Linked DNA regions of Homo sapiens: region 1 is linked to region 2. Evidence: fine-mapped expression QTL. A gene starts in region 2. The other region holds a variant in brackets. All regions are shown on one strand. Distances are from middle to middle. Region 1 has its middle 8.2 kb from the start of MIR12124. Region 2 holds the start of ACAD9 (acyl-CoA dehydrogenase family member 9).

The links.
Region 1: its variant is fine-mapped to the expression of ACAD9 in hypothalamus (GTEx, PIP above 0.99).

The regions. Positions count from the first base shown.
Region 1 is chr3:128,853,486-128,856,501 of GRCh38, reverse strand. No RefSeq gene overlaps it. Among named protein-coding and RNA genes, the nearest start is that of MIR12124, 8.2 kb to the right of the region's middle. The variant G/A (reference allele first, on the strand shown) is at 1,639.
Region 2 is chr3:128,878,268-128,880,767 of GRCh38, reverse strand. ACAD9 (acyl-CoA dehydrogenase family member 9) reads right to left here and starts at 1,148. Exons shown (of 18, transcript NM_014049.5): 1 at 927-1,148. The coding sequence starts at 1,076. It overlaps ACAD9-DT (ACAD9 divergent transcript), which reads left to right and starts at 1,332. Exons shown (of 3, transcript NR_186174.1): 1 at 1,332-1,632. RefSeq lists enhancers at 1-573, 882-961, 574-1,426, 1,022-1,571, 1,427-2,278.

The DNA.
Region 1 (3,016 bases), 25 kb after region 2:
GCCCAATGCCAGTCACTGTAGAACACTTTTGCCAGTGTGGAAACCAAGGACTAATGAATATAGACCAGTGCATGACATGTTGCAAACCAGGCCCCCAGGGATTCCAGAAATGGAAATTACACACAGTCAACCAGCCACAAAGCTCAGGAAAAGTGGAGCACATGAATCGGACACTCAAGCAGCTACTAAAGAAATATTGCCAAAAAACTCATCTAAGATAGGATCAGGTCCTGCCCATGGTCCTCCTCCAAGTCAGGTGTACCCCCACCAAACAAACTAGGTATTCACCCTCTGAAATCTTGTTCGGCCAGCCACCCCCAACCATAGGTCAAATTAAAGGTCAAAATTAAGGTAATTCCGTGAGTTAAGGGAGCTAACCTTGAGAAGGCAGATGCAGGCCTTAGGGAGAGCCATGCAAGAGATCCATGGCTGGGTACTGGAAAGAATGCCCATAGGACTAACAGACCAAACACACCCCTTTAGACCCAGGGATTCTGTTTAGGTCAAGAAATAGAATCCAACCACTTTAGGACCCATATGGGATGGGCCCCATACTGTAATCTTGTCCACTACCACTGCTGTTAAAGTTGCAGGAATCGTGCCTTAGATCCACCACAGTTGGCTGAAACTGGCAGCCCAGGACAAGTGGACCAGCCAGCAAGACTCAGACCATCCAAACCAGCTGATCCTATGACAGGACCGAGGTGCCAGTGAAAGTGACAACAGCCCTGCTCTGGTGACTCCAGAAGCCGACCAGTCTATGCACAGCTGAAGCTTGAGGAGACAGCAGTCCTGTTAGTCACCCCAGAAGCTGACTAGTCTATGCACAGCCGAAGTTTCATCTAGGAAGTAAATGTAGTTAGAAATCTTAAGCCCAGTAATTTTCCTTGTAATCTTAATTGTTTTACTATTAACCTGTCACTGTGCTCAACCTCCTCCCCTGGATAAGGACCTCTGTTGTCCATGCTGGGTATGAACATACTATTCCTTACTTTGTTCTTGCTACTCCCTCTATCCATGTTAGAAGGAGGGGTATGCGGAAACTTTAAACTAATTGTTGCCTAGAAATTGATGACAATAGGAAGGTCATTGAAGATATAACTGCAAAAATTCAAAAATTAGCCCATGTCCCAGTCCAAATTTGGAAAGGATGGTCTCCAGATACCCTCTTTGGGGGCTGGTTTTCGTCCCTTGGAAGATTTAAGACCTTAGTAGGAATAGTTCTGGTCATACTGGGAGTCTGTCTCACACTCCCTTGTCTCCTACCTCTCCTTGTTAAAAACATCCAATCAGCCATAGAGGTTCTTGTAACCAGGTAAACCACCACCCAACTAATGGCATTAATCAAATATCAACCTTTGCCAAATAAAGGACTAACTCCTCATGGAGAATTAAATTCTGATGATAATGCTTTCTATTAAACTTTATTTATAAACAGCATCAAAGGGGAGAATTAAGCAGGAAATATAAGAAAAACAAGTAAAGGGAAAACAAGTCCAGTTGGAGCTATGATAACATTATCTGCAAGGCCAGGCAGGGGCCCCAAAGAAATGGATTCCAAGAATAGGGATGAGAAAAACAAGTTCTTATCCGTCTCCCCCTGGAATTCTCTCCCAATGCCATTATTCTTTGTTCTGC[G/A]CTTGTAACTATTTTTGTAACTATTTCTGCAAGTTTGCAAGGATTTTATAAGTTCCTGTTTTCCCATCTGTGCAGGATGGCAAAGGTCACAAGACATGCCTGAATTGCAAAACCTGTCACAGTTAACTGCCTTTGTTCTGCTTCTGTAAGCTTGCTTTCCCCACCCTGCAAGTTTTGTGCCACTGGCTAGCCACTCCCCTTCAGTTGCCTGAATAAAAGTTAAGCCTGGCCTTTGTTCATTTATCAGCCTCTGAATATTAACCCACTAGGCCGGTGGCCACCTAAATAAAATCCTCCTGTTTCACCCATTGGTCTCTCCAGTCTCCTGATTCCCGCAACAGTCAGTCCAAGGCTCAGTTTCCCCATCTGCACAAAAGGGCCCCCTCCAGCTCTGATTCCGAGGATCCAGCCTCAGTCTGTGTCTGTGAACAGTGCTGGGTGATGATCCTGTTGACCCCTCATGTGCCTGTGACAAGGAAGGTACCACAGGGACCTAGAGATGCCCATTGAACTAAGAGGACACTCAGGCCAGAGAGGAGTGGCTGCCAGAGGCTGAGCAGTGGGGCAGTGGTTCCAGCTGGGACTGGTCCCGATCTCTTATCTCCAAGTTCTCACCACTGTGCCCATATTCTTGGAAGGAGGAAGTAAGGAAGAGGTGGACTGGGCAGCCTCAGGTGGATCTGAGTCTAGCTGCACCTCAGGCAGCTGAGGGTCCCCAGGCCTCAGTTTCCCATCTCTCCCCAGCAAGGCTGTGAAGCCAGGAGCCCCTGGTGGCTGTCACACAGGTGGGCAGAGGCCCCTCCTCCAAGGTTGCTGCTGTGTCTCTTCCCTGGCCTGGAGTCTGTGTGCCCATGGCAGAGGCCACCACTGGGCAGGGTGATTACCCCGGGCCTCCCTGATACTCACCCCTGCAGATCTGGAACATCAGCCTGGAATGGAGACCTTGTCACGGCCCTCCCTGCTTGCCACCCACAGCAGCTGAACACGCCATTCAGCCGTTCAGAGGTGGAGGCAGAGCCTGCACCTGGGCTCCCGAGGGCTGGGGCTCGGGTGCCCCAAGATGGCTGCCCAAGGGCCCCGACCCCACACCTTGAAGCTCCTCACAGCTCCTCCCCAGCCCACAGAGGGGAAGTCAGAGGGCAATGGCTCAGAAAGTCCCCCACACTCAGGCTCATGTGGGAACACTGAAAAGAGGAGCTCAGGGGGACCCCATCATTGTGGGAGACGCTGAGGCCCCATAAAGCCTCATGCAGAGGAGAGGGCCTGGCTGCAGCCCCACTGTCTGCCTGCCTTCCGGAGCACCAAAACCTCCCCAGGATTTCCTTTCACTTTGAAGGCAAGTGTCTCCCAGGTATGAATACTGAATCTCCCCAACTTA
Region 2 (2,500 bases):
TTATCTCACTGGGGCTCTACAACACATCTGTGAAGGAGACACAACACTATCTCCATTTTAAGGCTGAAAGAACTGAGTCTTGGCCGGGCGCGGTGGCTCACCCCTGTAATCCCAGCACTGTGGGAGGCCGAGGTGGGCGGATCACCCGAGGTCAGTTCTAGACCAGCTTGGCCAACATGGTGAAACCCCGTCTCTGCTAAAAATACAAAAAAAAAAAAAGCCGGGCAGGCGCCTGTAATCCCAGCTACTCCGGAGGCTGAGGCAGGAGAATCGCTTGAACCCAGGAGGGAGGTTGCAGTGAGCACTCCAGCCTGGGCGACAAGAGCGCGACTCTGTCTCAAAAAAAACAACTGAGTTTCAAAGTCAACGAGCCAAGACCAAACCCAAGTCTTCCAACTCTAAGAAGACAATGAGTGTTTTATAACCAAACTGTTACTATTGGCTGGGTTGTGCCACCCTTGGGAAGCATCTTGGAGCCAGATTTCTGAGGAACCTCAATGGCAGGGAGAGGCGCTGGGCTCACCTGGGGAAGGAAGCCCCAGGGCGCTGGAAGGTGACTGAGGAGGGACATGGTGTAAGCTGTTTAGGAATCAGAGAGGAAGCCCCGCACATTTCCAGACCAGACCAGCTGAGATGAAGGCTGCTTTGTTAATTACCTAGCCTAGAGTTTTCCGAATTCCCCTGACAAAATTTAGCTGGAACACGTCACCACCACATTTCCAAGGGTCCCCCGTCTTGGAAATGTCTCACCCTTTCTCTGGGAAGGTTTTCCTGGAACTCAGGAATCCGGAGTGTTAACACGCCTCGGCCGCAGGGTGTATCTCTCTGGCAGGTTTGGGGAATCTCACAAAGTTCAACACCAGTCTTGCAGCTGAGGGTGAAAAGCGGGAGCCAGACAGCAAGGGTTCGCCCAGGGCTCGCGTTACCTTCTTGATTTTGCCTAGGAAAAGCTCTTTGGCGAAAGCTCGTACAGGCGGGCTGGTGCGCAGTAGCCGCCGGTTCGCGGTAGAGACCACCAGACCCCGGCAGGCACGAGCCGCAGCCGTGGTGCGCAGGAAGAGCCCGCAGCCGCTCATGCTGCCCGATGTTCCCCAGCCTCAGCCTCAGTCTCCCCTTCTTAGCGCCGCAGGGACACACACACGTCTGATGACGTTACTGGCCCGCGACAACGTGCAGTACTCACTGCGCTTGCGCGGTCCCCCGCAGCAGGGGATGGAGAGGCCAGAAGGGCGGGAAGGCTACCACCTGCCGCGCCCAAGGCCTTAGTCACGTGCACCTGGCTGGCCCGCGCCGCCTGATGACGTCACACGCCTACGCTTCCCGCCGGCCCCACTGCGCTTGCGCGGCCAAAGGAGCTGGCCGGAGGAAATTGTAGGCCCTGGGCCGCGGGCATCTCGGCGGGTATAATCTCTGGCCGTCGTGACGGCGGTGACGGACCTGTTTTTCACATACCAGCGGTTGTTTCCATAAATGCCAGCCATGGGAAATCTCCCTGTGTACAGAAACCTAAAGGCCGGCTCAGCTGCCTCCACTTGTCTCTTTTGTCACTTGTGGCCACGAGGCCGTGGTAAAACTTGAGAAAAGCAAAAGAATGAGGGAAATGCGCTGTATTGGGGTCTCTGCAGGGGCACGGTAAGGGTAAGGGTCCATTTTTAACTGGATGGTGGATTCCTGAGATACTGTTTTGTTCCTAGTTGACATGTATGTTACATATATTTTTTGGAAAAGGAAAAGAAAGTGGGTGTTCAGTCACAGAGCGGTCTGGATACAACTGAGTCACCTCTGTCCTGGGAAACACTAACTTAAAAGGCAGGCGGAGGAAGAGAAACTACAGAGAGAGCTGAGAAGAGATGGGAACTATTGGATGGGATGGGACAGGCCAGGCTGTAACCGCCCAAGGTTACAGCCCGCTGACTAGACAGCTGATTTATCAAGACGGAAATTGCAATAGAGAGAGAGTAATTCACGCAGAGCCGGGTGTGTTGGAAAGGGAGTTTTATTAGCCAAATCGGTCTCCCCAAAAACGGATCGGAATTTTTAAGGATAATTTGGCGAGTAGAAGCTCGGGAAGTGGGAGGTGCATGATTGGTCGGGTTGGAGATGGACTGATAGGGGGCCGAAGTGAGTTTTTCTTGCTGTCTTCTGTTCCTGAATGGGATTGCAGAACTAGTTGAGCCAGATTACCAGTCTGGGTGTTGGTAGGTTTTACAACAGTGATGTTATTCCCAGGAACAATTTGGGGGACGTTCAGACTCTTGCAACCAAAGGCTGTATGGCCTCTAAACTGTAATTTCTAATCTTATAGCTAATTTGTTAGTCCTCCAAAGGCCAACTGGTCCCAGGCAAGAAGAGGTTGTTTTTTGTTGTTGTTGTTGTTGTTTTCCCGGGAAAGGGCTATTTTTGTTTTGAAGTTAAACTATAAACTCATTCCTTCCCAAGGTTAGTTCAGCCTACGCTCAGGAATGAACAAGGACAGCTTGGAGGTTAGAAGCAAGATGGA